Linked DNA regions of Homo sapiens. The protein of the gene in region 1 interacts with the protein of each later gene in a biochemical or structural test. Each region holds a gene or a part of one and is shown on either strand. Other genes may lie near its edges.

Region 1 (8,055 bases):
TTTTGTGCCTCACTTGCCCCAGCTTTAAAATCAATCCTATCAGGGTTGTTGAGAAAGGGAGTTAAATGAAAAGTTATGTACAGTTGTTAATGAGTAACATTGAATGGAAAGAAACACACCAAAATGTTAACACTGGTTGCTTCTCGGAAGCGGGATAATGAATACTTTTAATTTCCATTTATAAATTTCTGTATTTCCCAAATTTTCTACAACTAGCATATTAATATTTATTGATTCTTCTGATTAGCTTTTAAAGATAGTTACTTTATAATAGAATTGTTTAGATAAGAGAAAAGCTACCATGATACCAGCTGAGCAACACAATCACACTAGCAATTTAAAATGTTATTGTACAGCTCTCAAAAAACAAAACCAAAGTGCCAAAGAATCATCTGGCAACAAATCTTTTCAAAGAGGAAGCATGAGAGAAGCATGAGCTTTGGTTTAAGATAGACCAGGGCTTGAATTCTGACCCCAACACTTACTAGTTGTATGACTGCAGAAAAACGACTTAACATTCCTGAAACTGTTTCTAATTTCCATTATTTGAGGCAACACCATGTATTAAAGGAGAAAAATATAAACAAAGGAGCGGGCATGTAACAGGAGTTCAATAAATGAGGACTGGTATTTCCTTCCAGTCACTGGCATATGTAATAATCACAGTGTAGCTACAATTCTGTTTTCTTCCTGTTATAGAAATAAAATTGATCTGCCCATTACATAAATTAATATCCTGCTTTCTGTGAATTGCTTCGTTTACCTTGCGTCTTTCTTCTGCAGCTTCTAATTTCTTCTGAATTTCCTCCAGGGAAAGATCCTTCTTCTTTGGAGGGGAAAGGGGGAATTCTGGAACAGATTCTTTTGACCGAGGGCTGAGAATCAGCTCAAAAGCCTGGCCTGAGGCACGCTTCTCCAGTTCTTTCACCTGGATATCTAGAATTGATTATATTTATAATTCAGAAAACCAGGATTCTCCTGTTCTAATAAACTGTACTATAATTTTCTAAAACCCAAATCAATTTAATGTATTAAACTAGGGCTGATGAGGAAAGTTGTGTTTTTTTTCCCCTTTTTATTCCTATCAGTCTACTGACACTAGGGGAAGATGTATTTGCAGGCAAGATATTATTATCTAAATACCATTTCCCAAGGCCAGGTACCATGGCTCATGCCTATAATCCCAGCACCGTGGGAGGCCAACATGGGAAGATCCCTTGAGCCCTGAAGTTTGAGACCAGCCTGGGCAACAAAGGGAAAGCCCATCTCTACAAAAAAAATTTTTTTTGATTAGGTGGGTGTGGTGGCCCATGTCGATAGTCCCAGATGCTATGGAGGCTGAGGTGGGAGAATCGCTTGAGCCCACTTGAGCTCCAGAAGTCAAGGCTGCAATGAGCTATAATTAAGCCACTGCACTCCAGCCTGGGCAACAAGGTGAGACCCTGTCTCAAAAAAAATAAAAACCATCTCCCAGAAAAACAAAGCTCAACATTTTTGGATTAATAAATACTGTTTTGAGACATCAGTATCTGACAATCGCTTTCATAAACAAAAGACTTGTGCAAACTCCACAATTTTGCTTCAGACTAAGCCAAACTGTCCAATAAACAATTACGAGCTCTCGGCACATTCAAGTGATAATCATTTTTAAATTCTTCTCCTATTCATAAAATAGGTTTTGGTAAGACCAAAACATAAGTGCCAAATCAAAGGCGAAGACCTGAGCCATCTCAATCTAAAATCATAAGCCCATTACAATTTCAGATTTTCCAAATAGATTACCTACCAGAAGAAGCCATGGTGAATAGAAGACAAGCGACAGGCAGTGTATTCTGCACAATCAACTGGGATAAGGAAAGTCCTGAAAATGATTTTCAAAAACATGCAATCACTTTCTTTGCCTTTCTATATGTCATCAACCCAAAAAAATCTCACATCACATCTACATACATCGTCAGAAAAATACGTGGAATAAAGACGTCTAAATTAACCACGAAAAAAATTATCAAAATCTACTAAATAAACATTGGGAAATATGACCTGAATATGATATTGGTTCCAGAAAATCAAGTTAACTGAGCTTTCTCGGTCATAAAACTCTTGGATTTTTAAAATCAGACAAAGTCACAAGGGTGAAGAATTTTTCCCCCATAAACTCTTTAACATTTCACCGAAACTGTAAGAAGATATTCCAGATTCAACTCAACAGTGCCCCCGGAGCCATCTTAATACTGCCTACAACTCATTGTGCAAATGAAATACCCACCCCTGCTTTGTCTGTGTCTGACGTGGTGGATAAGAAAACGCCCAAGCTAATAGTAACCAATAATGTTGAACTCCTATTGTCCCTCAGGTTTAAGCTTCCTTGCCCAACAGCAAGCAAAATGTTTATGAACCTCTAGATTTTGACTTATATTTGCTGCCGTTATGTCATGAAAAATGCTGTATCTCTTGTTGATCTTTTTAACATTATGACTTTTGTAGACGCCAGCTAGTACCAAAAACGTAGGATGACAGGTTCCCAAAAGCTAGGAATTAAAATCAGAGGCAGCGACAAGATTTAAGAAAAGCAGAGAATTAGACGCAGCACCGGACCCAGGATGGGCGTGGCCCTGGTCCGGGCGAGGAAAAGAGGACCGGTCGCCCCCGGCCAATCAGAGCACGCCTTGCGCTCCGGCCCCTGGCCCCGCCCCCTTCCTCCCCGCGCCTTTTCGAATCTCCCCGAACTCAACACCCCGGAGCCCGCGCGCGTGGGAAGGGGAGGGGTGGGCGGGGCTAACGGTCCAATCCGGGTAACTCCGCCCCTGCCTGACTCCCCCTGCGCGGACGCCCCCCCCAACTCCCGCCAAAAACACCTCCAGGCCGCCGCCACCACCCCCTTCACAGTTCAGCGGGTGGGGCAGGCCCCGGGAACAGGCCCCCGGGTGGTCCCGCGGTGAGCTCGCCACCGCCTCCCGCCGTCCCCATGCCCAACCTGCCGCCACCCACGCTGTCCGCGCGTCCGGCCGCGAAGACAGAAGAACCCTCGTGGGGCCCGGGAGCGCCGCCCCTCAATCACCAGCTGCGGTCGCCAGGGGACGGTCGCAGGGAGGGTCGCGGCCCTGGCTGCCCGCAGTTTGGTCCTAAAGCCGCTGGTCCCTGGGGCACCGCCCCGTCCCTTCAGACAATGGGGAACCCGGCGGGGCCCGCAGGGAAGGGAGGGAGGGAGGGAGGTAAACGAGGGCCCACGCCCCCTATTGTCTCCTCGACGGCACCCCGGAGCGGACGCCCGGTGATCGCCCAGCCCCCTGCCCACGAACAGCCGCGCCCCCGGAGAGCGGGGACAAAGGCGAGGCTCCGCCCGAGCCACACACAAAGCGGAGCGACCCCCGCCCACCAACCCCTCCGAGGCCCGCAGCCCCGCCCGCCGCCCTGCAGCAGGGGGTCGCTGCCACGGCCCAGCCCCTCCCGCCGACCGCGTCCCTCTTGCTGGCCTCAGCCAGCCGCCGCCTCCTCCGAGCCCCGCACCCACCTGCTCAGTCCGAGCCGCCTGACCACACTCTGAGCACCAACAGACCCGGGCGCGCACAAAAGCGCCAAACAGAGGCACGTGACCTCCGCGCGGGGCTCCGCATTGGCCGAGAGCGGCGGCACGTGCCGCCCCCGCCCCCCACAACCCGCGTGGAGCGCCGCCCCCCGGGACCCCGAAGCACCTCGGGAAGTGTAGTCCTGTCCCGGAGGGCAGGAGGACAATGCCGGGGGTTGCAGGGCGCCTGGGGAGCATCCCCAGGTGTGGGCCTGGGACTAGGGGGGTGGTCTCGCCGTGGAAGAGGGCGTGGCAGTGGACCCCGGACTAGGTCCGAACCAGCTCCCCATTCTCGAGAACAAGGGCAGGGCGGAGCAGGCGGAGGGCGGGGGGGTCCTTCCCTACCTTTCCAAACTTTGGCCGCCTGGACTCCACCTTGTAGAGCCACATGCCCGCCTCGCCCCAAGGGCAGCACTCGGACAGAGCAGTGCCCCTTCTAGTGCGCCACCCACATGGGTGCCTAAGACGCCCGAGCCCCTGTGACAGCACAATGCCACTCCACGCCCCTGCAGGGCCCCCTGCCCCCGGCACCCTACACCGACACCGGCGTGTCACCCATATTGTGACATCATCGTAATTTCTAATCCACTCAGCCCACAGGTCGCGGGCGTGGCCCTTCCCTCACTGTGTGCGTTCTTGCCAGCATCCTCAGGTTCCCGAGCCGGTGACCAGGGACCTGTGCGGGAAAGCGTGGGGCTCTGGAATTTGATCGCCTTTGGTCTAACAAAGCCACTCAGCTTAAATGCAGACTCCATCTGTTCTTCCAAGCCTTCTGCGGATGATAGGGGAGGAAGAGCAATAGCCGTTCTAGACTACACAGATTGCAGTTAAGTGTTGCTTTTGTTCTCAGAGCACGTGCTCCCCAGAGCAGCACTGGGTTCTTTTTAAAAATCGAAAAAGGAGCCACAAGGTCACTGTTCTCCCTGACCTGGATAGCTCAGAACCTCAGCAAAGGCACAAAGGAAATTGGTCTGACCGTGCCTTAGAATAACTGGCCCTTTCTCTCACAAAAAGGGGAAAAAAATAAATGAAATGAACATGGTCCCCGCCTCCTCCCATTCTCTGACCAAGACCGTGTCCTCGGTTGGTGGTCAATACACCAAGACACCTGCTTTGAGATCTTGACTAAGCAGAAGAGATATCTTTATTTTATTAATGAGCTGCATCTCCCCAAATCAAGAAACAAATGTGACCAACCTTCCTGAAACAACAGTCCTAATTTAGAAAGACTCTCATGCCTAGTTAGTCACCAGGGATGTGCCAGAGATAAAATACAACTAAGGGGTGCCCAAGACAATAAAAACTGGATCATACAAGCAGCAGCACACTACACAAAGCAAACAATTAGCAATGCGCTGTTGCCTGAAATATGCTTGTTGCGGCATTTTTTCCAACAATCGCCCTTGTGTGGGGTCGGCCTCCCCCCCAAGCCAATCGAAGTGGTTTTCACTTAGCCTGTGAGCAGGACCAGGAATAATTCAGATACTGAGCCTTGAAAGGCTTCTTCTCAGACCAAACTTAGCTTCAAAATGGCTAGGTGCTTCCGTCTGTCATTTTTCTGAACAGAATCTCAGACATCATTAGAAAAGTTGGAGAAGGATGGGCATGAGACCCCTCAGGAAAGCGACAGATAGGCAGGCAACACAAATGAGCAAGGAACCCAAGCCCAAGAGGTCCTTACCCACTGAACAGGCTTTTTATCTTGAAGTCTTTGTATTTGATCTGGAGGTTCACAGAGGAAGGTCCCACTCATTTAATGCATTTTTTTAAGTACAATAAATTGCCACACAAAAGTCTCACATTCCTGACTATTAATGTTGTGACAGAAAAAAGAAATAAATCTTTCAAAACACTGATAATTTGAAAGCACTTACACTGCTTCCCCCCACATTTTCTTTCTCCCTAGAGCAGATGTCTATTTCCATGGAAACCATAGCAAGGAACGTAGATGTTAGAACTCATGTTCATTTTTAATCTTTTTTAGCAATGCCACTTGGCTTCTGGGTTTGTTGGGAGATGCCTGGTTCTGCCAGTCTGTGACAATGTTCCAAGCTCCTCACAGCTGCTTGAGGACTGAGAGGGCTGGGTTAAAGTTTCCCCTAGAATGAGCCTTTGAATAAAAAGGTGCTTTTGAGGTGGGATTCCTGTCCTTTTATTATTATTATTATTATTATTATTATTATTATTATTATTATTATTATTTGACTTAAAAAAAATTGAGACAGGGTCTCACTATGTTGCCCAGGTTGGCCTCGAACTCCTGGGTTCAAGCAATCCTCTTGTCTCAGCCTCCCAAAGTGCTGGGATTACAGGCATGAGCCACCACACCCAGTCTGATCCTTGTTCTTTAGGGTGGGGCTGCCTTCCCAAGAGCCAGATCACAGCTCATTATTGTCAGCTTTTGTGGGTGTCCTATATAAGCCTTGGAATAGGAAGGGCTTTCAACTGTAAGGAGAGACAACAGTTTTGCCACTTCACCTTGGAGAGGGGCAGAATCGCCCTTCTCGAAAGCTTCCTAAAACGAACTTCAAGATCCACTCTCTTCTGAAGTGGCAGCAAGGAGTTAATGTTCACATCTTGGAACTGTCTATCTTTGCCCATAAGAATTATTTTTGCTTCTGCTCAGATGGTTTGGTTGGATTGTTATGGAGCTGGCTGTGACTATGGAGCCACACAACGAAGTGGAGATAGGGCAGTCATCCAGCTTATTTGATCTGTGTAGACAGCTAAAGGAGAGCACTTCAGGCTTCAAAGTCTAGAAGGAATGTCTACACTGATCAAACGGCGGGCCAGGCCGTTGTCAGATCTCCTCTCCTGCCAGAGAGCCCGGCAGCCTTTGTTCATTGTTGGGCTTGAGGCTGCAGGGTTTGTCTCCCACATGGCGCCTCCAAGTTCCACAGCTGCTTTCGAGGCCTGTCCTCGGCCAAAGGGTGTCGTGGGAGAGGTTTGCTTGTTGTCCCCGGTCTCTCTGTTCCCTTTGTCTCCTAATCCTCAAGCACTATGCTCTAACACTCCCTTCTCTATTCAAAACCTGTCTATGAGTCTGCTGTTTTACACATCGATCTCCCTCACTAGACCATTAGGTCCTAGAGGGCAGGGTGCTGTCTTTGTCTTGGTATCCCTAGTGCAGTGCCCATCCTCAGGCCTGGCCCAGGATGATGGCGCCTGAATGTTTGCAGAGAACTTTGGGAAAGAACAACCTCTTGGCCGGGCACGCTGGCTCACACCTCTAATCCCAGCACTTTGGGAGGCTGAGGCAGGCGGATCACAAGGTCAGGAGATCGAGACCATCCTGGCTAACACGATGAAACCCCGTCTCTACTAAAAATACAAAAAATTAGCCAGGCATGGTGGCGGGCGCCTGTAGTCCCAGCTACGCACGAGGCTGAGGCAGGAGAATGGCATGAACCTGGGAGGTGGAGGTTGCAGTGAGCCGAGTTCACGCCACTGCCTTCCAGCCTGGGCGACACAGCAAGACTCCGTCTCACAAAAAAAAAAAAAAAGAACAACCTCTCTCATCCTTCTGTGATCTTCTGTCTCTTCTGTGATATTAGACACTTGCACTCTGGGAGTGGTGAGGATTAAATGAAATAATGTAAATGAAAACAGCACAATGCCTGGCACATTTAAAGTGCTGTGCACTTGTTAGGTATCATTGCTAGAGATGTTTCCTGATTGCTATAGATTATTTTATTTTTATTTTTTGAGACGGAGTTTTGCTTTTGTTGCCCAGGCTGCAGTGCAGTGGTGCAATCTCAGCTCACTGCAACCTCCGCCTCCCAGGTTCAAGCGATTCTCCCGCCTCAGCCTCCTGAGTAGCTGGGATTACAGGTGTGCGCCACCATGCCCAGCTAATTTTTTGTATTTTTAGTAGAGATGGGGTTTCATCACGTTGATCAGGCTGGTCTCAAACTCCTGACCTCAGGTGATCCACCTGCCTCGGCCTCCCAAAGTGCAGGGATTACAGGCGTGAGCCGCGGTGCCTGGCCTGCTATAGGTTATTGAATGAGTGAATGACTATTAGACTTTCACCCTTTGATGGAAATTGTAGTTACTGGGTTAACTCTTCCCATGGGGTTAAATTCAATTCATTTAACACTTTATTTTTTATTTTTATTTTTATTTTTATTTTTTTGAGCAACAAGGCTGTTTATTTCACCTGGATGCAGGCGGGCTGAGTCCGAAAAGAGAGTCAGCAAAGGGTGGTGGGATTATCATTGGTTCTTATAGGTTTTGGGATAGGCAGTAGAGTTAAGAGCAATGTTTTGGGGGCAGGGGATGGATCTCACAAAGTACATTCTCAAGGGTGGGGAGAATTACAAAGAAACTTCTTAAGGGTGGGTGACATTATAAAGAACCTTCTTAAGGGTGGGGGAGATTACAAAGTACATTGATCAGTTAAGGTGGGGCAGAAACAAATCACAATGGTGGAATGTCATCAGTTAAGGCTATTTTCACTTCTGTGGATCTTCAGTTGCTTCAGGCCATCT
Region 2 (7,581 bases), on another chromosome or scaffold:
ATTATAAGATGAGGAAATAGGCTCAAGGAATAATTTGCTCAAATCACACACCTGAACTCAGGACCATGTGACTCTTAACTAAAGCCTATAGATTTTCTATTCTGTTAGGCTGAGTTTAGATTTCATAAGGCTTGGCTCACCCCTAGCTAGGGCTGCAGAACAAAATCATGAACTTAAACCATTCAAAATTGATTTGTAATTTTTTTTAAGGCACCAAAGCTGAAATAGAATCATCAAAGCACCAAGCTCAGGATATTCCCAGGATTCTCTGGGGAAAAGGCAAAAGAAGTTGGATTGCCATTATCAGCATATGCTGTGAAAACTGTGTTGCTTTTATTGAGATTCACATTTTAGTTCAATTCAAATGTTAGACAGGGGCTACATGACACCTTCCTAGTACTAATATAAACTCTGGAATTGCTTCTGGCTAATAGAATTACTTAGATAACAGAGAGTTTATATATGTAGCTGAGATGTGATAAGGGTGGGAGCCAGCGGAGAAGTTAGTGACTAACTATAACTCAGGGCAGGATAGGGAAGGCCCAGCATAAAGTGGGAAGAGATAAAAATAAGGAAGGGGAGGGTCTCATAGAGCAGAGAGAAAGATGGGAGGGGGTGATGATTCAGCTTCTTATCCCCTTATTTTCCATGAACTGTCCAGAATGTACACCCCACCCCCTATACAAGACGTCTGCCTTCCTCCATAGTCAGGAAGATTCTAGCCACAACTTCCGATCTCGCAAATCACCAACAGTGCCCTGGTTTGCACATTCTTATCCTGGTTTTAATTTCCTCTATTGTGAAACCTGCAGACACAGAGCTTAGTTCTTATGTGCTGAGATCATCTCAACCTAATCTCAAAGGGTTTCCTTCCAATCCGTCTTGGAAAGAGGTGAGGCTTAAATAATTTTTTCTTTTTTTTTGAGATGGAGTCTTGCTCTGTTGCCCAGGCTGGAGTGCAGTGGCCTGATCTTGGCTCACTGCAAGCTCTGCCTCCCAGGTTCACATCATTCTCCTGCCTCAGCCACCCGAGTAGCTGGGACTACAGGCACCGCCACCACGCCCGGCTAATTTTTTGTATTTTTAGTAGAGATGGGGTTTCACCGTGTTAGCCAGGATGGCCTCGATCTCCTGACCTCGTGATCCGCCAGCCTCAGCCTCCCAAAGTGTTGGGATTACAGGCGTAAGCCACCGCGCCCGGCAAGAAATAAGTGAGCTTGATTGTGGTGACTGGCACTGCCACAAAGCAGCTGCAGAATGAATGGCACTTGGAGCTCAGGAGCAGGGCCTTCAAAGGTGCCTGTCTACAACCATCGGGGCACAAGGGGACAAGCATACAGAGTAGGAGTGCAGCACGAAGGTCAAATAAGGGAAAAGTGGGCAACTGGGATGAGAAGGTGAGCAGGAGACAGAGACAAAGGGGTAAAGGGGCAGGCAGGAGTATATCAGCAGCACGAACCCACTCACGATTCTCAAAGTAAAACTTATGGAAATCCATCCCCTCCACGAGGTTACCAAGGGCCTCAGGCTCAAAGGAAGTGAGGCCTGGATCACAAATCTTCCTACAGGGAGAAAAAAAAAAGCAGCCTATCAGGCTTCTATGGAGTGACTTGTCTTCCTTCCTTATCAGCGGTGTCTATCCAGTAGCAGCAGGCTACCTGTGGCCATGCCAGACAAGACAGCAAAGATCTTCCAGGCCTGCCTGCTGAGCCACTCAGCCCTGTGCTTTCGGCCCACTGCCAGGATACCATGGGTGAGCTCAGGGAATCTACCTGGAAGGGCTCCCAGTTTAGGAGAGGGCTTAACTCAGATACTTTGCCCAAGGTCCAACCTCCCTTTCCCCAGGGTCCTAATTGTTGTCTGGAAGCAGGGAAGGCCTTGGGAGATGACTTAGGTCACAAAAAAAAATGGGTCTCTACTTACGTGTAGGCCTCAAAGTCCCCATTGTTGATGGCTTCAATCAGCTGTTCTGTAATCTTAATGATCTCCTGTTTTCGCACTGTGGGGGAGAAAAATCCATCAATTTACCTACTGGGGAACCTCCCAAGTTACAGAGAGCCCTCCCCAGTCCTCAGGAGTCCCCTGTGATCGCTTATGACAAAGACATCCCTCTTCTCTGTCTCTAGGGCCCTTGGCAGGAAGAGCGAACACACCTTCCCTCCCGTCTCCCTCTCTGCAGTCTGCAGAGACAATGACCACTTTCTCCTGAAGCCCAGCCATTAGTTATGGTTCTTTGGCCTTTGCCTCCCTTTCCATCAACAACCAGGTTGCAGAAAACACGCTTGCCTTTAACAGGTGAGGAGCCTGGTACATCGTGAATGCTGTGAGCCCCTCCCCTGTATGAGCAGCCTCTCTCACAAGCATCTCCCAATAAGGCCGCTTCCACCCCCAATTTACTTCTCTCACCTGAAGGGGCTCAGTCAGGTCTCAATCACCACCCCCACTCGTAGCCCTCATTCAGTGGCCAGGACCCAGCCCTGGGTGACAGGTAGCCTGACAGCAGAATCCAGCTAGGGCTGGGGTGCCAAAGGACCATCAGAACCCTAGGATGGATGCTTCCCACTGCTCAACTCCACAGGGCTTTTCTGGGAGAAATGATCCCAGAACTGTAAAAACTTGGGACAGCCTGTACCAGAGAGGCTGCTCCATTTACCTCTCGAGGCTTGGGAAAGCTGCACATTTCACACCAGCTCTCATTGCCAGGACGTGTTCCTCAGGAAAACCAGACAGGGCTCAGACTGACAGGCAGGCAGAGGTGGTGCCCTCCAGAGGCCTCCTCCCCAACCCATCCAAAGCCAAGGGACAGCTGGTGATGTCCTGCCGGCATGGGCTTCTCTTATAGGGAATGCCACTACCAGCAGGGGCTGCCACCAGGGTAAGGGAGAGCTTGGGTTGAGCTTGGGCTCATCCTAACCCGAGCCCTGGGCGGGGCCAGGCCACAACCCTTTCCTCACAGGAGCAAAAGGCTGCAAGACAACTGCAAGCGTTAGAACAGCACCACCACGGCCCAGCCGGGCCAGCACAGCCAAGCAGCACAGTTGGGACAGGGCAGCGCAGCCAAAGGCACATCCAGGAGGGGGCCCCACAGCCGTCAGCCCCGCTAGGCCACAGCTCCAGGTGAGCAAGCAGCAGGTTAAGGGAAGCAAGGAGTTCGATCGGCTTCCAAAAGCAGCAGGCAGGTGTGCACCCACAACACACACACCCTCTCCAACCCCACCAGACCCATCTGGATGACCTGACTGGGGCCCCACGGGCGAAGAGGGTTGTGCTTAGAAACTCTGCAAGGATAGATGGTGGGAGGAAAAGCAGCAGACAAAGGCATCCTCCAGCACAGACGTAACTAGAAATATGAGGATGAGCTACTGATAACCCATCGAGGCACCGTATCAAGACTTCCTACTGCCTTGTCTTTTATCTAACAAGGCTCTGAGGTGCGTGCCATTTTATTTCCACATTACAGATAAGGAACCTGCAGCTCTGGGAGGTTAAACTTCACACTCTTGAAGGCAGTGTAGCTGGGATTTAAACTCAGATCTATCTTGCCTCTGACCCCATGCTCTTAATACTGTTATGCTGAGACTCAGGAAGCACTACATCCCCAACACAGTTCCTCGCTGTCACGATTTCCCCATCATCCCACTCCCACCCCCACAGACCTGACTTCCGACTCTGCCCTTCTTCCTGGCTCAGCGCTGAGGCAAGGCCCACTGCACATCCTGGGGGCTTTCTACTCCCCTCATCCCAGGCCATGTTTTTCCACCCACACTTCTCATATTTCTTTGGGCCCCAGACTCAGGGGCCCCTGCCTGGTCTCAACAGCACCTCCAGTCTACCCCCCACCCCCAGCAGAGGCCATGCTCCCAGAGCTTACTACCACGGGCAGGTGGGTGGGACTGACAGCTGTGGTGGGGGTCCCTGAGGGGCTTCAGGACGAGCCAGGGAGACGGAAGCCAGAATGTGCCTCCCTCACACTTACTGGCTGAGGAGCAGAGAGAAGGCTGGGGCTGCATGCCTGCAGAGGGGGCTGTTCTGTCCCGGGAGCTCCGTCCTTCAGGCACCGAGCTGCCATTCCCAGTGCGGAGCGGGGCAGCTAGCCAGCCAGGGCAGGGCAGGGCAGGGCAAGGCAGAGCAGCCAAAACAAACAGAACAAGGCAGGTGAGCGAGCAAGCCAGACAGGCCCCGAGCCCATGGCGCTGCAGAGCCGGGGCAAGGGGACGCCTCGCCTCAGGCTGCTGTGGACACTGGACGACATCCCACGCCGCCGCCTCTGCCAGAGAGGCCTCCCAGCTGAGGGCACCAGGCAGGTGCCCAGACCTGGGCTGTGGCTTCCAGACGAGCCTTACAACAGCCTGTCCAAGGACCCCTGATCCCGGGGAAGATGTTCCAGGGGGCCAGGCCACAGGGTCCAGAGCCCAGCAGTGACAGCGCCTCCTATGTTGCCAGCAGTGCCGGAATCAAAACTGATCTGACCTCACTCACAGGGGCCTGGAGCTACTATGATTCACTTCCTCGCAGCTTTCTGCTATTTTTTTTGGTTCCAAAAGGTTTGGTGCCCCCTTGCCACCCAGGGCATGCTCTCCCAGCTCTGTCCTAGAGTGTTCCTCTGTCTTTTCTGATGTCCTGGCCCAAGGTCACTTACTGAATTCAGGCAAAGGGAGCAATTCCAGGAGGCCCAATCAAAGAGCAGGACAGAGATTCCCGGGGGTCCAGCCTGCCATGCCCTCCCACCGCCCTGGCACTCTAGCCAGGCCCAAGCTTAGGCTAGTGGTCCTTACGGGCCCACCAGGACATGACCAAATGTGGCCTCACGGTTGTCAGATTAGTTCCAACTCCATCATTCAGGCCAAAATCTTAGGACTAGAGTGACCAACTCATCCCAGTGTTCCCAGGACTATCTGGGTTTTATATTTATATATATATATATATATATATATATATTTTTTTTTTTTTTTTTTTCTTGAGACAGAGTCTCGCTCTGTCACCCAGGCTGGAGTGCAGTGGTGCAATCTCAGCTCACTGCAACCTCCACCTCCCGGGTTCAAGCCATTTTCATGCCTCAGTCTCCCGAGTAGCTGGGATTACAGGACCCCGCCACCACACCCGGCTAATTTTTTTTTTTTTTTTTTTTTTTTTTGAGAAGAAGTTTCGCTCTTGTTGCCCAGGCTGGAGTGCAATGGGGTGATCTCGGCTCACTGCAACCTCCACCTCCCAGGTTCAAGCGATTCTCCCACCTCCGCCTCCCGAGTAGCTACGATTACAGGCACCTGCCACCACACCTGGCTAATTTTTTATATTTTTAGTAGAGATGGAGTTTCACCATGTTGGCCAGGCTGGTCTTGAACTTCTGACCTTCAGGTGATCCACCCACCTTGGCCTCCCAAAGTGTTGGGATTACAGGCGTGAGCCACTACGCCCGGCCTTTTTTTGTATTTTTAGTAGAGACGGGGTTTCATCATGTTGGCCAGGCTGGTTTTGAACTCCTGACCTCAAGTGATCCACTTGCCTCGGCCTCCCAAAGTGTGGGGATTACAGGTGTGAGTCACCGCACCTGGCCTATTTATTTGTTCCTAATTTTTTTTTTTTAATAGAGACAAGGTCTTGCTATGTTGCCCAAGCTTGTCTCAAACTCCTGGTCTCAAGCAATCCTTCTGCCCTGGCCCTCCCAAAGTTCTGGGTATTACAGGTGTGAGCCAGCACTCCTGGCCCATCACAGTCTTAAAACCAAAAGTTCTGTGTCCGAGGAAAACCAGGAGTGATTGGTCACTCTATTTATGACTCATAGCACTTACAGGCTACTTCGGCAGGGACTTGGGGTACCCCTGTTCTTGGATGGCACATCATTATCAGCAACAGGAACAGTTCTCTGAGCCCTGGCCCCTGGAGAATCTCTAGCTTAGCTATTTTAGACTTGGGGTCAAAGAAGAGAAGCCTCTTGCCCAACTCAGCAACACCAGACAGGGGCCTCATATCTTGGCTCGTGGAAAGTAGCTTTTATACCAAGCCCTCTCCTAGGGGCATAGGAGCCAGCATTCCCAGTTCTGGGGACAGAAAAGGCAGGTGCCCCATTGGAGCCCAGGTACCTGGGTCACTGCTGGAGTCCTTCCCCCTCCAAGGGCCAGCACCTACCTTTGAGGTCCTCATCTTCTGTGGTGGTGTTGCAGCTCTCTGTGGAGCCCTGTAGGCCAAAAAGAACATGTTTCTATATGCTCCATCCCTTGGAAGCCAGAGGAGCAAAGCAGAACAAAAGCAGAGTTTCTGCTCCTACAAGAGGTGCAAGGAGGAATTGTGGAAGGTTCTGCTTCCACCCTGGCTGTCTGACTCTTCCCAAATCCCCTCCCTAGTCTTCCCCCAGTTGGTAAATGCCACCATCTACCCAGTTACTCAGGCTAAAACCTGGAGTCATCCTCAATCCTTCTCTTTCTCTTTTTCCCTTATATTCAGATCGCCCAATCTAAAATAAAATCTTCTGGTTCTGCCTCCAAAGTAAACCCCATGTCTTACCTCTTCACTTCCAATGCACAGCTACAACCTGACTCCAGGCCACCAGCATCTCACACCTGAACCATGATAACAGCTTCATGGTCTCCCTAACTTCCACACTTACCTCCTCCCTAGAGTTTTTCTTTTTTGAAACAGAGTTTTGCTCTTGTTGCACAGGCTGGAGTGCAATGGCATGATCTCGGCTCACTGCAACCTCTGCCTCCCGGGTTCAAGTGATTCTCCTGTCTCAGCCTCCTGAGTAGCTGGGATTACAGGTGCCTGCCACCATGCCTGGCTAATTTTTGTATTTTTATTAGAGATGGGGTTTCATCATGTTGGCCAGGCTGGTCTCGAGCTCCTGACCTTTGCTGATCCACTCGCCTCGGCCTTCCAAAGTGCAGGGATTACGGGCGTGAGCCACCACGCCCGGGCCTCCCTAGAGTTCTTGATCATGAGGCCAGAGTGGTGTTTTAAAGTGTCAACTAGATTCTGTTACTCCTGCTAAGAACTCCCAATAGCTTCTCCTTGCTGCTGGAAGAAAATGCAAACTCCTACAAGGGCCTCTGTAGCAGGCCCTGCTGCTTCTCCAACCTCATCACTCTCCTATGGTTCTCCCCGTCTCACTTTGCTCTTCCCTCTGCTTGATTACAAAGGCCACATCTGAGCTTCAGTTCCTTCTGCTTAGGGCACTCAGCCTCAGAGCTGGCCTGGCTGCCTCCTTCCCACCCACCATTCAGTTTCTAGCTCAGATATCACCTCCTGAAAGAAGCCCTCTCCTGACTACTTAATTCAAGGCCCTGTTCTCTCTGTCTAGTTTGGTGAGGTTTTTCTGTTTTTCATTTTTTAGATGGAGTCTTGCTCTGTCGCCCAGGCTGAAGTGCAGTGGCACGATTTCAGCTCACTGCAACCTCCGCCTCCCAGGTTCAAGCGATTCTCCTGCCTCAGCCTCCCAGGTAGCTGGGATTACAGGCATGTGCCACCATCCCCAGGTAATTTCTGTATCTTTAGTAGAGATGGGGTTTTGCCATGTTGGCCAGGCTGGTTTTGAACTCCTGACCTCAAGTGATCCGCCCGCCTTGGCCTCCCAAAGTGCTAGGATTA
Region 3 (7,581 bases), on another chromosome or scaffold:
TCTGCAAAACAGTTCTGGAACTGTAGTTTGAGCTCAGAAAATGTATGTGCTACAAATTTGTGTGGGAATGGAGCTCTCATTACTTTGTCAGGACATGAAGTATATAAAACAGCTTGACATTACATGTGATACCAATGTTGTTGCTGAAATGGCTTTACCACAGTATAAGTTTCATATATAAGTATTTTTTGCTTTGTTGTTTTAGGATGGATTCATTAAGAAACATTATCAAGTCTGCAGGAAACACTAATTTTCCAAGCTATTTATTGTTTGATAATAGTAATTGAGAGCGGTTCTCACAGAAAATAAATCCATCTTTGCCTTGAGCACAACAAATCACAATAAAACTTTACCAATATTAGCCCATCAAATGTTGTGTTGTAGAGCAAGACAAAATTTCTGACAAAAATTCATGGAACTTGAGCTTAAACCAGAGTTCATAAGAGAGAAGTTTATCATTAGTGCTACTGGTTCAGTAATATGATAGATTGAAATTTTCTTCAGATCACTTGATGATGAGTAATAAAATATATAACCATAAACGTTAAATACCTTACATTTTCATAAACTTTGTAAATTTGTCCAACTAGGTCTTTTTCCATTCCATATATATTTTTACCATTCCAGTAGTAACATATCTTATTATGAGATTCTGCTTCAGGTTTTGCTGAATTAGTTTTCTCAACTTTGAAAATATTCTCACCTATGATTATTTCATGTAGACTACACATAGGGGCTACTTCTGCAGTTCAAACTCCTTGAATAATCAACACTTGGCTCTTTGAATAAACAATAACTTAAGTAGTATCAGTTACATTTGTCAACAAATCAAGAGCCAAAGAGAAAACCACTCCATCATTTACCTTATTTTTCAGTTGATTAGTGACATTGCTTTTCAATATTCCCAGCTTTTTGGACCACTATACTTACCAAAAGTCCAATATTATGTTTATTTTCTCTGGACACATTTCTTCAGCTTCTGCACTCAAACATAATTTCACTAACTCACCATCAATAAACAGCTTTCCTCGTTTAGCCAATAAATGAGCCCCTGGGAAATTTACTTTGATTGAAGCCTCATTTTTATTTTTGTGAAGAAATATTTTGTGATGAGATTTCACTTTAAATTTTCTAACTTTTTGAACTGTAGTTTTCCTGTGAATTGGGAATATTGTCACTAGTGTTTAATAGTGTCAGTATATATTGTATTTAGTATATAGTATTTTTTGCATAATCATGCATTCTTTGCCATCTAATCTGATTTTTGAAAAACCCATCCTCTGCTGCACCTTTAAGCGTGACATTCAGAGTCCACTTTTCTCTTTGTTTGAGATGATGAGTGTATACTCAGTTTTTTTTAATGTCCAGTGTGAAGGCACTTGAAATGCTGTCATTATAGCTACATCACTGCAACTTAAGAGTGCACAGAGCAGCAGTCCAAAGCAATGGGAGTGCCACATACAGTCTGTCACAACTGCTCAACTCTGCCATTATAGCACAGAAGCAGCCATAGATAACATGTAAATGAATGTGTATGGCTGCGTTCCAATAAAACTTTATGAACACTAAAATGTGAATTTCATTGCATTTTCATATGTCACAAGATAGTCTCTAAAAACCATTCTTAGGTTGCAAGGAGAATAAAAATATGCAGCACGAGGCTGGGTGCGGTGGCTCATGCCTGTAATCCCAGCACTTTGGGAGGCTGAGGAGGGCAGGTCACTTGAGCTCAGGAGGTTGAGACCAGATTGGGCCAACATGGTGAAACCCTGTCTCTACTAAAAATACAAAAATTAGCTGGGCGTGGTGGCAGGTGCCTGTCGTCCCAGCTACTTCGGGAGGCTGAGGCAGAGAATCACTTGAACCCAGGAGGTGGAGGTTGCAGTGAGCTGAGATCGCACCACTACACTCTAGCCTGGTTGAGAGAGCGAGACTCCATCTCAAAAAACAAAAAATACCACAGTATGGCTGGATTTGGCCCAAGGGCTTTAGTTCGCCAACCCTGTCTGGTTCAAGGGCTGTAGTTTGCCAACCCTTGACCTACTCTTAATATAACAGTGCTTTTCAGGAGTTTTTGTTAGGAAATTTCATTTGAGGTCTGAAAATCCATCTCTAGACCTACATTCTGGATTTTCACATAATTAAAACTTGTATAGAATACATAGTGACCTTTATTTTCAAGATTAGTCTCTTTTCTCTTTTCAGGTATTTTCCACTTGTTCATCAATATGGAAAACTCAGATTCCAATGACAAAGGAAGTGGTGATCAGTCTGCAGCACAGCGCAGAAGTCAGATGGACCGATTGGATCGAGAAGAAGCTTTCTATCAATTTGTAAATAACCTGAGTGAAGAAGATTATAGGCTTATGAGAGATAACAATTTGCTAGGCACCCCAGGTATGCTTACATATATTTAAGGATTTATAAGTGTAAGTTGCTGGTTTAAAAAAAAATGCTTGAACCTGTTTTAAAAATCCATTTCTTTAGCCCTTATGAAATATTATTTAACATAGGGGATATGGAATGACATTTATTGCTGTATTTATTACCTGATTATATTTACTGATGTTTGGAATTACACTATATCAGAGAGATTTTTAACTTATGAATTATGAATTTTTAGCGAACTGAATTGAAAAGAATGGAGCTAAATCTTTTTTTTCTTAGTTAGCTTTATCTAACTTACTAGATAAGAATCCGAGTGTGGAATAGCTAATGGGAACTTAGTTTTTAGGAAAGACTTATTCTGTTATCTCTGATTTTCTGAATATGTCCCAGTTGTAATCCTCCAGAGCTAGCCTTGGGTAACATAGCAATTAGAAGTTTGTGCTTAATTATCTTTTACCCCACTAAGTCCCATTTGATCCTAGTTAAAAGTCAGTATCTGTCTTCCTCTTCATTTCTGTTTAATTCTACTTACCTTTGAGTAATTGCTTAGATTTTAAAAGGTAAGGTTTTAGCATGACTTTTAAGAGAGGGAGTGTGTTTTTAGCCAACAATACCAGGCTTGAATCAGAATGCTTTAGGTGGAGTTCTGGCCCTGCTGTTTGGTGTGGCTCCTGGCAAGCCAGTCTGTCGCTCAGTCTGTTTCTTAATTTTAAAATGCAGATAACAATATCCTCCTCTCAAAGCTGCAATTCTTAAAAATTACTTACTTATTTATTTTTGAGACAGGGTCTCATGTTGCCCAGGCTGGACTCAAGGGATTCTTCCGCCTGAGTCTCCCAACGAGCTGGCACTACAGATGTGGTACCACTGTGCGCCCAGCTTAGAATTGCCTTTGCCTTTTTTTTTTTTTTTTTTTTTTTAAGCAGAGTCTTGCACTTTCGCCCAGGCTGGAGTGCAGTGGTGCAGTCTCTGCTCACTGCAACCTCTGCCTCCTGGGCTCAAGCGATTCTCCTGCCTCAGTCTCCTAAGCAGCTGGGATTACAGGCACCTGCCACCATGTCTGGCTAATTTTTGTATTTTTAGTAGAGATGGGGTTTCATCATGTTGGCCAGGCTGGTCTCGAACTCCTGACCTCCGGTGATCCACCCGCCTCGGCCTCCCAAAGTGCTGGGAGTACAGGCGTGAGCCAAAGTTAGATGTTATATGCAAAAGAACTTTGTAAATTGCTTTTAATATGTTTCCAAAGAAGTGAATTTTTCCCAGGACCTACCTACTCCTTGGTTTTTCTTTTTGGTTTGAAAAAGTTTTCTCTTTTAAAAATATGATTTTTTTTCTAATCATCTTGTGTCAGATTACTGTGAGTCACTGATAAAGTATTTGATTGTCATACCCCTAATGTCATCTTTGCCCTGTGGTGTTAAATTTCAGGTGAAAGTACTGAGGAAGAGTTGCTGAGACGACTACAGCAAATTAAAGAAGGCCCACCACCGCAAAACTCAGATGAAAATAGAGGTATGTTTTGGTTTTGGTGGGGAGGTGGATAGACGATGGGATGATAGGAACTTTGTAATAGTAAATGTCAGCCAAAGATTATCCAGATTTGGCACAAATTAATTTGGTGCTAAGTAACTGCTCATAAAAAGAAAACTGACATTTTCTTGATACTTAGAATGTCAGCATTTTTTTTCTACCTCACCTTTGAGATGTTTATGTTAATTGGAACACAGTGAGAAATGGCCCATTTAAATGTGATTTTGTTTGTTTGTTTGTTTTTCACCTCCATTGAAATTTATTCCTACTTAATTCCTTCTTTATAAACATGTGACTTCTTCACCAGCAAAAAGAAATGTCTAAACCCAGTGGTTCCTAATGAGATATAATTTTGCCCCATGTGGGACATTAGCAACGTCTGGAGACATTTGTGTAGAGGGCAGGAATGCTGCCAAACATCCTGACATGCCATAATGCACAACACAGCCCCCATGACACAGAATTAACTGGCTTAAAATGTCAGTAGTACCACTGTTGAGAAATCCTGCTCTAACCTCAGGTCTGGTGTTTCCCTCCCAGTGTCAAGTAGGGATTTTGATTGTGCAACCTGAGAGGCTACGATAATAATTTGGTTCTTGAACATGCCATTATATGTGCTATGCAAGGTTCAGACTACTTATTTGATCTGATCTTTAACTTCATGTCCATTGAAAACCTTGGTAACATTAAGAAATATTCAAATGCTTTTAAACCTATAAATCTTGTTTGTATTTTTCTTATGGCTACAATAAATAGTCCTGTATTTTAAAACAACCTCAAATGTTATCAAAGGCACAGTATGTAGACTAATAAAAATTTGACAGAAATGTAGCTTGAACTAAATGTGACTGTTCGTTAAACACTGTTTCCTTACCTAGTTTGATTACATTAGTATTTTGGCAGAGGACTGAAAAAACGTCTTCTGACCATCCCACAGTGGTATGCTTGGCTCTGTATATGATAAAATACTGAAAATAGACTTCCTCCAGATTCCCTTTAAAAATCAAATAATTCTCTAAATTTCTCTAGTGTAGCTTGCTCTTTTCAAATGGAATTAGAATTTTCTTACCTTATAAATTTATGCAGTATAGTTTGTAAAAATCTGTAATTATGAAATGTGTTCCGAATTTTTAAGTTATTTAATGCAGAGTTTCAGAGCACTTATATGATTGTCCTCATTTTAGTAGTTCCTTTTTCTCCCTCTCCCCCTCCTTTGTTTTGAACAGGAGGAGACTCTTCAGATGATGTGTCTAATGGTGACTCTATAATAGACTGGCTTAACTCTGTCAGACAAACTGGAAATACAACAAGAAGTGGGCAAAGAGGAAACCAATCTTGGAGAGCAGTGAGTCGGACTAATCCAAACAGTGGTGATTTCAGATTCAGTTTAGAGATAAATGTTAACCGTAATAATGGGAGCCAAAATTCAGAGAATGAAAATGAGCCATCTGCAAGACGTTCTAGTGGAGAAAATGTGGAAAACAACAGCCAAAGGCAAGTGGAAAACCCACGATCTGAATCAACATCTGCAAGGCCATCTAGATCAGAACGAAATTCAACTGAAGCGTTAACAGAGGTCCCACCTACCAGAGGTCAGAGGAGGGCAAGAAGCAGGAGCCCAGACCATCGGAGAACCAGAGCAAGAGCTGAAAGAAGTAGGTCACCTCTGCATCCAATGAGTGAAATTCCACGAAGATCTCATCATAGTATCTCATCTCAGACTTTTGAACATCCTTTGGTAAATGAGACGGAGGGAAGTTCTAGAACCCGGCACCATGTGACATTGAGGCAGCAAATATCTGGGCCTGAGTTGCTAAGTAGAGGTCTTTTTGCAGCTTCTGGAACAAGAAATGCTTCTCAAGGAGCAGGTTCTTCAGACACAGCTGCCAGTGGTGAATCTACAGGATCAGGACAGAGACCTCCAACCATAGTCCTTGATCTTCAAGTAAGAAGAGTTCGTCCTGGAGAATATCGGCAGAGAGATAGCATAGCCAGCAGAACTCGGTCTAGGTCTCAGACACCAAACAACACTGTCACCTATGAAAGTGAACGAGGAGGTTTTAGGCGTACATTTTCACGTTCTGAGCGGGCAGGTGTGAGAACCTATGTCAGTACCATCAGAATTCCCATTCGTAGAATCTTAAATACTGGTTTAAGTGAGACTACATCTGTTGCAATTCAGACCATGTTAAGGCAGATAATGACAGGTTTTGGTGAGTTAAGCTATTTTATGTACAGTGATAGCGACTCAGAGCCTACTGGCTCAGTCTCAAATCGAAATATGGAAAGGGCAGAGTCACGGAGTGGAAGAGGAGGTTCTGGTGGTGGTAGTAGTTCTGGTTCCAGTTCGAGTTCCAGTTCCAGTTCGAGTTCCAGTTCCAGTTCAAGTTCCAGTTCCAGTCCTAGTTCCAGTTCCGGTGGTGAAAGTTCAGAAACTAGCTCAGATTTATTTGAAGGCAGTAATGAAGGAAGCTCATCATCAGGCTCATCAGGTGCCAGGCGAGAGGGTCGACATAGGGCCCCAGTCACATTTGATGAAAGTGGCTCTTTGCCCTTCCTTAGCCTGGCTCAGTTTTTCCTCTTAAATGAGGATGATGATGACCAACCTAGAGGACTCACCAAAGAACAGATTGACAACTTGGCAATGAGAAGTTTTGGTGAAAATGATGCATTAAAAACCTGTAGTGTTTGCATTACAGAATATACAGAAGGCAACAAACTTCGTAAACTACCTTGTTCCCATGAGTACCATGTCCACTGCATCGATCGCTGGTTATCTGAGAATTCTACCTGTCCTATTTGTCGCAGAGCAGTCTTAGCTTCTGGTAACAGAGAAAGTGTTGTGTAATTAAGATCTGAACTCTCAGCTATGTAGCTGATATAGTGATGGGCAAACAGGAATCACTTGCTTTTATGTCCACTTTTTGAGTGGTACTTAAATGTAAAGTAACAACCTGAATTGAGTCATTGCTTTCTGAAGGAATCATTGTCCTTTCTCCAGTTTTTGTTCCAGAATAAAAGGAAATATTTTAAAAGCCACGTTATAGGACCTAAAAATCTGATTTCCGTACCAGTTAAATTGGTAGCATCACTGTTACTGATAATTTATCATATACACTTGTCAATTTTTCCTTTGTTATCTTAAAAGATCTGCCTTAGCAATGGCTCCTTTTTCATGTTGATCTTTAAATTTTCCCACACCATAAGAGAGGAGCAAAGGAAATTACCAGTTTAGACTAAGTTACAGTATGTGTTTCATAAGTGATTAAAGCTATATCATTCCCAGTTATTAGTTAACACAAATTCAGCCACATTCTGAGTATTGTTTGTTCACCTTTCAGACTTGGTGATACTGGACATGTCAGTGTAAATAACACTAAGGTTAGGATCTTCTAAGTGTATAACTGTCTCCTAAGCCCATCACTGTGGCACACTGTAGAGTGAGCTTATAGTTTAATTGAGATATTTATCTTGTGGAAATATTAAAAAGCCTATGCTTGTGTAAGTGAAAAAAAATCACATTCATTTGTTTAAAAATGTAAAGCTATTTTGTAGAGGCTCAGTACTTTTCCAATGCACTGTTGTATGAATGCATTAAAAATTGTAAAGTACCATGCTTAGAACTGAGAAAACTGCTTTTTGTGAGCCAACATAGTAACAAAC

The links. Proteins that work in one complex are often made in the same cells at the same time.
Region 2: of the proteins of STMN1 (region 1) and CAMK2G, one has a biochemical effect on the other in vitro, tested with the Homo sapiens proteins (one study listed by BioGRID).
Region 3: the proteins of STMN1 (region 1) and RLIM form a complex in vitro, tested with the Homo sapiens proteins (one study listed by BioGRID).

The regions. Positions count from the first base shown.
Region 1 is NC_000001.11:25,902,878-25,910,932, forward strand, and holds the start of STMN1 (stathmin), read right to left. Parts: upstream 3,543-8,055; 5' UTR 3,512-3,542; exon of another isoform or gene 3,485-3,511; intron 3,169-3,484; exon of another isoform or gene 2,975-3,168; intron 1,862-2,974; 5' UTR 1,800-1,861; coding exon 1,787-1,799; intron 937-1,786; coding exon 764-936; intron 1-763. UniProt on the Homo sapiens protein: Involved in the regulation of the microtubule (MT) filament system by destabilizing microtubules. Prevents assembly and promotes disassembly of microtubules. Phosphorylation at Ser-16 may be required for axon formation during neurogenesis.
Region 2 is NC_000010.11:73,815,556-73,823,136, forward strand, and holds part of CAMK2G (calcium/calmodulin-dependent protein kinase type II subunit gamma), read right to left. Parts: intron 6,176-7,581; coding exon 6,127-6,175; intron 4,091-6,126; coding exon 3,977-4,090; intron 3,341-3,976; exon of another isoform or gene 2,713-3,340; coding exon of another isoform or gene 2,654-2,712; intron 2,000-2,653; coding exon 1,924-1,999; intron 1,563-1,923; coding exon 1,468-1,562; coding exon of another isoform or gene 1,154-1,467; exon of another isoform or gene 312-1,153; intron 1-311.
Region 3 is NC_000023.11:74,590,625-74,598,205, reverse strand, and holds part of RLIM (E3 ubiquitin-protein ligase RLIM), read left to right. Parts: intron 1-2,205; 5' UTR 2,206-2,228; coding exon 2,229-2,397; intron 2,398-3,816; coding exon 3,817-3,900; intron 3,901-5,144; coding exon 5,145-6,766; 3' UTR 6,767-7,581. UniProt on the Homo sapiens protein: E3 ubiquitin-protein ligase.